Linked DNA regions of Homo sapiens: regions 1 and 3 are each reported to be linked to region 2. Evidence: microRNA targets listed by miRTarBase, many of them from high-throughput screens and not tested one by one. Region 2 holds a microRNA gene; each other region holds the end of a gene's coding sequence.
The links. The annotated mature microRNA hsa-miR-1288-5p reads GCAGAUCAGGACUGUAACUCACC and lies in region 2 at 2,247-2,269, opposite strand. An mRNA with a match to its seed (bases 2 to 7 or 8) in the 3' UTR can be bound and repressed. Matches are read on the target gene's strand: a 7mer-m8 pairs with bases 2 to 8, a 7mer-A1 pairs with bases 2 to 7 and ends in A, and an 8mer does both.

Region 1: the mRNA of PLA2G4D is a reported target of hsa-miR-1288-5p. Seed matches in the 3' UTR shown: 7mer-m8 at 2,713-2,719 and 8mer at 2,027-2,034.
Region 3: miRTarBase lists COLGALT1 as a target of hsa-miR-1288-5p. Seed matches in the 3' UTR shown: 7mer-m8 at 2,281-2,287.

Annotation. Positions count from the first base shown.
Region 1 is chr15:42,065,950-42,069,202 of GRCh38, forward strand. It overlaps PLA2G4D (phospholipase A2 group IVD), which reads right to left. Exons shown (of 20, transcript NM_178034.4): 20 at 1,060-2,992. The coding sequence ends at 2,766. Among named protein-coding and RNA genes, the nearest start is that of PLA2G4D, 27 kb to the right of the region's middle.
Region 2 is chr17:16,281,044-16,284,296 of GRCh38, reverse strand. It overlaps MIR1288 (microRNA 1288), which reads right to left and starts at 2,283; the gene lies at 2,209-2,283. All of the region lies in intron 2 of PIGL (phosphatidylinositol glycan anchor biosynthesis class L), which reads right to left.
Region 3 is chr19:17,581,180-17,584,432 of GRCh38, reverse strand. It overlaps COLGALT1 (collagen beta(1-O)galactosyltransferase 1), which reads right to left. Exons shown (of 12, transcript NM_024656.4): 12 at 1,276-3,253. The coding sequence ends at 2,989. Among named protein-coding and RNA genes, the nearest start is that of COLGALT1, 27 kb to the right of the region's middle.

The DNA of each region.
Region 1 (3,253 bases), not on the chromosome of region 2:
GCCTCCTCTGGGCCGCAATGTGTGAGGATACGCACAGGGTGTTGTCCACCAGGAAAGTCTACCTGAGACTTTGGTGCCCAGAGACTTTACTGAGGCTTGATCAGATGCTGCCTGTGTGACCGACCTTTAGTCTCCAAAGCCCCCCAGCAAACAAAGACACTCCTGTCAGACAGGACATTCCAGGACCCAGAGGTCACCTCCCACTAGCCACGGGCAGAGACTGGACCTCTCTTTGGTGAGGTTAATTCTAAACTACGAATAGGGCACGTTACAAAGTCAGTGCCCAAAGACACAGAGAGGTGTGGCTGTCAGAAGCTCCAGTCCTGGATTTGCCACCTTTGAGGTTAGCAAGTTACTTAATCCCTGTGGACGCCTACCAGCCAGAGGCCAGCAGGAACAGCCCAGTAGCCAAACAAATTTGAGTTAACTGGTACCCATTGCACTAAGAAGACTGTATACTAGGAGGCAGTGCAGTCTCAGTAAGTGTGTGTGTGTGTGTGTGTGTGTGTGTGTGTGGTGGGGGGGTGCTTATTGAAGGATTTGGGCGTTTGTAGGGTGACATTACGAAATGTTCAAGGAAGCAAAGTGTTGCTGTGGATTGGGTGCTGTCAGGGAGTGGGGCGAGTCTATAATTGAGGATCTTCACAATTTTTATCCAGGAGGTGGAAGAACGGGAGGGACGAAAAGCCTGGTAGAGAAACCGCAGTCTCTCACGTGAAACAGGAGAGGGCACTGTTTGGCCATTTTTATGGTTTCACAGTGCCCTCATTTTTTGTCCATGCTCAGGCATATTTATGGAGTGGCCTTGATTCTGTCCTGCTGCGTCACGGGGGCGCGGTGACCCTGCCTGACACAGGTGCTCTGTGAAGTTTGTGTGCATCAGGCGGACACCAGGGACCTGCAGACGAGTCACAGGATGCTTTGTTCTGTTCCTTTCCCAACCCTGAGTTTCATCACTGATAACAAGGAGACGGTAATTCTACCTAACACATTAGGCAAATGTGAGAATTAAGGGGAATAATGTAAAATGCCCAGCATAAAATAAAACACAACAGCTAGTCAATTCCCATATCACTGTTAAAAAAATAAGAGTCCATGATAAAGGGAAAAAGTGAAGAATCAAAATAAAGCCAAATGCAGAAGAGGCACAGGGAAGGAAGCTGAGAGAGGACATCAGATGAGGGCAGTCCCTGAGCCAAGGTCTGTCCCGAAGCTCTCACTACAACCCCCACCTGGGGCCAGGTGTGTGTGTGTGTGTATGTGTACACGCACCCTTGCATGAGGGAGGTAAGAAATGTGCTAGCAGCTGGCCGTGGTGGCTCACACCAGTAATCCCAGCACTTTGGGAGGCTGAGGCAGGAGGATTGCTTGAGTTCAGGAGTTCAAGACCAGCCTGGGCAACATGGTGAGACCTCATCTCTACAAAAAACCATTTTTTTAATTTAGCCAAGTATGGTGTTACATGCCTGTAGTCCCAGCTACTTGGGAGGCTGAAGTGGAAGGATCACTTGAGCCCAGGAAGTTGAGGATGCAGTGAGCCAGATTGCACCATTGAACTTGGCCTGGGTGACAGAGTGTGATGAGATTCTGTCTCAAAAAAAAAAAAAAAGAAAGAAAAAGAAAAAGAAATGTGCCAGCAATAAACAAAAAGGTTTATATACCATAATCAAATGGAAACTGCCCCAGGAATGCAAAGTTGGTTTAATATCCAAAAACCAATTAATGCAATAGAGTACATTAATAAAATACACGACAAAACCACATGATCATGCCCATAGACACAGAAAAATCACTTGACAAAACCTAACACCGTTTCATCATAAAACACTCAATAAACTAGAAATAAAAGAGAACTTTCTCAACCTGATAAGGATGTCCAAGAAAAACCCACAGCTAAAATCACACTAAATGGTGAGAGACTTATGCTTTCTTGTCAGAGTCAGGAACAAGACAAGATGTCTGCTCTTGAAACGTGTGTTCATCATTGTACTGCTCAGGGCAATTGGGAAAAATAAATAAAAGGCATTCAGATCAGACAGGAAGAAGTAAAACCATCTCTATTTGGAGATGGCATGATCTGTCTACAGAAAATTCTAAGAAATCCGCAAAAGTATTAGAGCCGGTAAACAACTTCAGCAAGATTGCGGAATACAAGATCAACATTTAAAAATCCATTGTATTTCTATAAAATAGCAATGAATAATCTAAATGAAATTAAGAAAGTAACTCCACTTATCAAAAAGAATAAAATATTTAGGAATAAATTTAAACAAGTACAAGACTTGGATACGGAAAGCAGGAGGACAAAGAGGAGAAGGACAAGGAGAGGAGGAGGTGGAGGAGCAGGAAGAAGATGAGGAGGCAATGTGTTCAGGATGTCTTGTGATTCCCGAGGCCTGAAGCCACCTGTCAGGTCAGGCATCCCCTGTCCTTCCTGTCCCTACTCCTGATCTGCTGCCTCCGGCTTGCACTTCAAATCTATCCTGCTCAGGCATGGAAGTAATTGTGGTGTGAAAGTCTGTCTGGTTGGACCAGCTGTTCTACACACTGGCCTGGCGAAGTTATTTTCAACTCATCTCAAGCCAGCCATGAACGTAAGAGAGAAGTCTGTGTGTGCAGTTCCCTCTGGGCAGTGAGACCAGCTACAGAGGCCACCCAGGCCTGGGAGAGCCCAGAACTCCAACCAGGAAGGCCTGTGGCTGAGCCCAGCTACAGATCAGGTTATGCCCGCAGGCCCTGGAGGGTCCTGCAGCCTCTGAGCAACCTCAGGTCTGTGCCCTTGGAGGCCTCGCCTCTAGAGTCCGGTGCTTCAGCGCGGTCCTCAGGGCCTGCAGGATGGCACCCTGGCTGGTCTGCACGTTGTAGTCACTGAGCCGCAGCAGGCGCTCGAAGTCTTCCTCCTTGTAGGTCATGTTGGACAGGGTGTAGGGGCAGGTGGCCCCGGTGAGATCCACTTGGCCACCCTGGAGCTCTGCGGGGCTGCGCTGGACACCTGCCCAGGGGTAGGAGGGGTGTCAGGAGCAGGACGCCGGGGCTTCTACAGCCTGGCAGCGGCGCACAGGGAGGGCTGCCCCCGCTGGAGGGGCCCCTGCTTTCCTCCCAGCTCTCTGTGTCCTTTGCCCAGGAATGTAAATGTGGGTGGCAGGGTGCTCTTTGGATGGGTACTATTTGGTGGTAGAAAATACAATTTCATATTTCATTGCCTTGTGGCGTGACACCCCTTAGGCTATTCAGGCAGCCCCACATGTCTCTA
Region 2 (3,253 bases):
GTTTATAAAAGCAACTTTCGGGCTAGGCGCAGTGGCTGATGCCTGTAATCCCAGCACTTTGGGAGGCCAAGGCGGGTAGATCACCTGAGGTCAGGAGTTCAAGACCAGCCTGGCCAACATGGTGAGACTACGTCTCTACTAAAAATGCAAAAAATTACCTGGGTGTGGTGGCGGGCGCCTGTAATCCCGGCTACTCAGGAGGCTGAGGCAGGAGAATCGCTTGAACCTGGGAAGCGGAGGTTGCAGTGAGCCGAGATCGCACCGTTGCACTCCAACCTGGGCAACAAGAGTGAAACTCCGTCTCAAAACAAAAAAAAAGAAAGAAAAGCAGCTTTCATGAGCAATATCCTGGTGGCCACCCAAGTTCATGATGAGGCAGATGCGGGATGTATTTCCCTCTCTATGAGGCAATGCTGACAGACCAGGAAGGGAACTATGAGATAAGGCTTTAAGCTTGATCGATGGATTCTGATTGAAGTTAAGTGGGTTCTTACTCATATTCAACAGCATTAATAGTAATTGCTAACTCCTTAATAATTCAATAAGAGCTTTTGTATAATCGGTGATTTAAAAAGTTTTACAAAATCTTCACACTATTCAATTGTTTAATATAGATTAACATCTCTCTCTTATTTTTTTTAAGAGACAGGGTCTCAGTCTGTTGCTTAGGCTGACCTTGAACTCCAGGTCTCAGATGATCCTCCCACCTCACCCTCCCAAAGTGCTCAGATTACAGGTGTGAGCCACGGCACCTGGCCAGATTAACACCTCTTCTAAGAGCAGTGAGTCTTGAATGAGCATGGCTCCTCAGAAATATCTTTTTTTTTTTGAAATAGGGTCTTGCTCTGTCATCCAGGCTGGAGTGCAGTGGTGCAAACACAGCTCACTGCAGCCTCAACCTCCTAGGATCAGGCAATCCTCCTTCCTCAGCCTCTTGAGTAGCTGGGACTACAGGCATGCACAACCACGGCCAGCTAATTAAAACAATTGTTTTGGCCAGGCACAGTGGCTCACGCCTGTAATCCCAGCACTTTGGGAGGCTGAGACTGGCAGATCACCTGAGGTCAGAAGTTAGACACCATCCTGGCCAACATGGTGAAATCCCACCTCTACTAAAAATACAAAAATTAGCTGGGCATGGTGATGTGTGACTGTAATCCCAGCTACTCGGGAGGCTGAGGCAGGAGAATCGCTTAAACCCAGGAGGCAGAAGTTGCAGTGAGCCAAGATCATGCCATTGCACTCCAACCTGGGCAACAGAGTGAGAATCTGTCTAAAAAAAAAAAAAAATTCTTTTTTGGTAGACATGGGGTCTCGCCATGTTGCCCAGGCTGGTCTTGTACTCCTGGGCTCAAGTGATGCTCCCGCTTCAGCTTCCCAAAGTGCTGGGATTGAGCCACTGCACCTGGCCAGAGATATCTTTTGAAGTAGACATTGCTTACTATTACTGGCTGCTGGACCCATAATAGGGGCTGAGTCCTATGACCAGCCTGGACATCTTTCCCAGCTTCTTGAGAGGTGCCAACATCACATCAGGATATATGTATGAGCTGCATTCTGCACTGACTCTTTCACCAACTTAATGAGCACTCTGGATTCCTTGAGATCATTCTTAAAAAGAGTTTGAGGAGGATACCTTCCTTCCACATGACTAATGCTGATTCATTAACCAGAGAATGCAGGAGTTAGAAGGGACTTTAGGAACCATCTAAGTAGTCCTGTTAGCCTCAGAAAGAGTAATTCTAGGGATATTTTGTGAAATCAACACTGACTATGTTTGGGAGGTAAAATGATTCCTTTGTCAAGGTGTTTGGGTATGGGTGTTTAGGGTATGTAAAATTAGATATTTTACATAATAGTAGTAACTAGACTGGTGAAAAAAAAACAGACCAATTATTTACCTCTAATTCAGCATTCCATTGTGCTATCTCTCTCCTATAACTTAGGCTTTTCTAAGTTGTAAAGAACAAGGATATGGAGTCTTTCTACCTCCCTCGTGCATGTTCACTCTGAGATGCTGGCTATGGTGGGCAAGAAGGAGGATAAGCCAAGGGATGCCCAGCCATTCCTCTCACACCCAGAAAAAGGGAGGGCTTTCAGGGGACTGTGGGCAGGCAAAGCTGAAGGAAATTTGGGATATGTGCTAATTCCCAGGAAGACCCTGTCTGGTGATGCTCAGATAGCTTCTGTAGGGTGAATTATTCTCGAAAGGCAGTGGTCTCCAGATCAGGGCAGTCCACCACTATGGTGAGTTACAGTCCTGATCTGCTGATCAACACCCTCTTAGCAGTGCCCCCATGGACAGCTGTCGCCCCCCTTCCATTGTCTGGGGGCAATAGCAGAATGTCTGAGGATGGGTCTTACAGGTTGCATTGCTCTTGCTCCCCTTTGGCTTGCCTGCTTCATGTCAGATGGGAGCTGTACCAGTGGGCACCCCACCTGTGTACCAGAGCTCCTGCTTCTGCAGGAGACTGAGGCCAGTATTTCCTCCTTGTCATGGAAGATTCTATCACAGGTCCCCTTCTTCTTTCTCCTTTAGCCAGTCTCATAAAAATTTGCCAATATCAGTATCCAATTCCTTCTAAAATTAATATTTCTTAGATGTAGGCAAGGAACTAAGCATTAAATATTGCAGCAGAAAATATACACGCCTACCAGGCTAGGGATTTATAGGGAAAATATACAAGAGAGATCCAAATCACTTCAAAATTATTTCCAAGTGGGTTGATGCTATTTGATGTGGTTACTTAAGAATGTAGACAAAAGATACACTTGCAGTGCTGGCCAGAAGATAGCCTTAGTTATTATGAATGTTGCATCTGGCTTTGCAAAGAGCAAATGCCTAGACACATTCTCAGGGATGGGATGGGATTTGTTAAACAATCTCTTGCATCCAGTCTCTGAAACATAAAAGCCGTTGATATTCTTTTAGAGCAGGTAAAAAATGCTTGGACTTTTCTTAGAAAAGGGAGAACATTCCTAGAATTAGCATCTAAAACATGTCAAAATTTAGCTTGCAAAAATGAGTTCAAAATGAACTACTGTTCTACAGCAATGTTTTCCAATTGAGGTCCACAAATCCCTGAGAGTCTGTGGCTAAATTCTCAGGGGTCCATGCATTCCTAGAAAAATTTTTTACTTAAATAATAATCTGAAACATTTCATGATTATTTCCTTGAAAACTTCAAATGAATGTATGTTCATGTGATTTTAGTGCTTATATTTATACATGTGAAAGCACAAGAGTCTTCTC
Region 3 (3,253 bases), not on the chromosome of region 2:
GTTGGCCACCTGTCCCTGGGCTATTTCAGGGAAGTTTTCTGGTTTTGTTTTATAGAAACAGGGTCTTGCTCTGTTGCCCAGGCTGGAGTGCAGTGGTGTGATCATGGTTCACTGCAGCCTCAACCTCCTAGACTCAAGAGATACTCCTGCTTCAGCCTCCTGAGTAGCCAGATTACAGGTGTGCCCTACCATGCCCAACTAATTTCTCAATTTTTTTTGTAGAGACGAGGGTCTCACTCTGTTGCCCAAGCTGGTCTTGAGCTCCTGACCTCAAGCAATCCTCTCACCTCCTCAACCTCCCAAAGCATTGGGATTATAGGAGTGAGCCACCTCACCCAGCCTAATCCTTTTTTTTTTTTGAGATGGAGTCTCATTCTGTTGCCCAGGCTGGAGTGCAGTGGCAAGATTTCAGCTCACTGCAACCTCCACCTCCTGCGTTCAAGCGATTCTCCTGCCTCAGCCTCCCAAGTAGCTGGGACTACTGTCACACACCACCATGCCTGGCTGCTTTTTGCATTTTTAGTAGAGACGGGATTTCATCTTATTGATCAGGCTGGTCTCGAACTCCTGACCTCAGGTGATCCACCCACCTTGGCCTCCCAAAGTGCTGGGATTACAGGCGTGAACCACCATGCCCAGCCCTAATCCTCATGTTGAGGTCTGTTTTAGGGGGACTCAAAGCACGACAGCCCCTCTTTATTCGAAGTCATGTGGAAGGATCCTGAAGTTGACTCAAGACAGAGCTGTCGGTCCCCCGCCTGTTTGGGGGAAGTTTTATGGCATGAGGGGACACAGGGCTCTTACCACACCCTCACCCCACAGTAGCTCCACTGGCCAGCTTTTTTTTTTTTTTTTTGGTTTGATTGTGTCTTGCTCTGCCGCCCAGGCTGGAGGGCAGTGGCTCAATCTTGGGTCACTGCAACCTCCACCTCCCAGGTTCAAGCGATTCTCCTGCCTCAGCCTCCCAAGTAGCGAGGATTACAGGTACCCCCCCCCCGCCACCCCGCCCCACTACACTAGGCTAATTTTTGTACTTTTAATAGAGAGGGGGTTTCACCATGTTGGCCAGGCTGGTCTTGAATTCCTGACCTCAAGTGATCCGCCCACCTTAGCCTCCCAAAGCACCGGGATTACAGGCATGAGCCACCATGCCAGGCCCCACTGGGCAGCTTCCCTACTGCACCTGCCCTGGTTTCCTCCCAAATCTTGTCGGCCATCCAGGGGTGGGGAACGTGGGCAGTGTTTTGGTGCCGAGCAAAATCCCACAAACTGCTGTGAAAACCAACCAGGAACATTTATTAAAAAACTAAGCAAGTTATCCCCAAGAGGGTGAAGCACCGCTGGCTGGTTCTGACATTCGATTCAGGCTGAAGGCACGGCAACTCCTCCAGCCCTTGCTGGGAAATGTCCTACCCAGGCCACGGGCAGTGCCCCAGTGCAGCTGGGTCCCCTAAAAGCCCCCAAACACATGATCCCACCAAAGGCTTGAACAGAGCAACTTCATCAAGCAGGCAGGGACCACACCTGAGACACAAGGGCAAGGAGGTAAAGCACAGGGGACCGGGAGTGGGCCAGGGACACCCAGCCCCCGTCTCCAACTGGCGCCCCCTCCAGGGGGGCTAACATGTGGCGTGGGGCCACCAGGACCTGTGCTTGCCCCTGGTGGCGGAAGAGCTACCCTCCCTCTTGGGTGGTGGGGGGATGTTGTCTGCACACAGCTCAGACGACCGAGGGTACAGGAAGAATCAAACTCAGTCAACCATTCTTCAACCCAACTGGGAGTCTGTGAGGCCTGGCACACAGGTGCTCAATAAACACTTGTGGCATGAAGAAGTGAAGGAACCGATCTTGTTCATCTCTGTGCCCCAGCACTCGGCATGTAGCCCATGATCGAAAATGCAGACTGAACAACTGTCACACTCTTTTGTATCACTAGTGCCCGGCACACAGTCAGTGCTCTTCAGGTGTGTGGGAAAGAAGCCAATGAGTGAGAAGTTCCCACACCGTCTAGCAGTGAGGAAAAAAAGAAAAAAGTAAAAAGTACCTTGTTTACTCCCATTCCCATCCCATAGCTCAGCTCCCTGCACACAGCAGGTGCTCAGTAAGTGTACCGAATCAGGAACTTATCTTTGTGACATGAGTGCCAGGCACACAGTAGGTGACCAATATGTGCTTGAATAAATGGATAGAAGCATCTTATTTATCTCAATATTCCCAGAGCCTGGGCTGGGCACAGTGGCTCATGCCTGTAACCCTAGCACTTTGGGTGGCCAAGGCGGGCAGATCACTTGAGGTCAGGAGTTCGAGACCAGCCTGGCCAACATGGTGAAACCCCGTCTCTACTAAAAATACAAAAACTAGCCAGATGTGATGGCACGCACCTATAGTCCCAGCTACTTGGGAGGCCGAGAAACAAGAATTGCTGGACGCTGGGAGGCGCAGGCTGCAGTGAGCCGTCACACCACTGCACTCCAGCCTGGGTGACAGAGACAGACTCTACTCTTAAAAAAAAAAAAAAAAAAATCCCAGAGCCTGGAATGGCACCCAACACACAGTAGGCACTCAATAAATCCTTGAATGAATTTTAAAAATGAATGTGTATCACTAGTGCCTGATTCTTAATCTGATCAGTAACTGCTTGATGACTGAATCAATCGCTGATGGAGGGAACAATTATGCCTCATTCACTGCCGTAACATGGGAACCTTGCATACAGCAGGTGCTTAATAAATGCTGGGCACATGAACAGATGAAGAGGGCTTGGTTCCTCCCAATTCCCCAGGGCCAAGCCCTGTTGCTGGCATGCAGTAGGCACTCCATTAATGCTGCCTGTGTGCACGTGATTGCTTAGCAAGAGCTGGCTGGACACCACCCCACACGAGAGCCCTCTGTGGCCTGCCAAGGGGTCCAGAGGTGGACCTGATGTCCTCAGTAAGCACGTGGAGCCTGGGCCACCGATGGCTGCTTTGGCTTTCTGGCTGCTACCCCTCAGAGTTCATCCCGGGCAGCACTGTCCAGTGGGGACTGGAGCACGTCCGAGTTCTTGGCCTCACGGCTCAGTGCCTGCTGCTCCCGCATCTTCTGGGACTTGGCGCGGTCCCAGTCGGTCTTGACGTGCTCATTGTTCCATACGACTGAGGTCTCGGTGTCACTCACATAGCCATCGTCTCCTGTGTAGTGTGTGGGGTAGATGAGCAGCGGCTCCACAGAGAAGGCATGCAGGTTGCGGAGGGAGAAGTGGGCCTTGTACTCG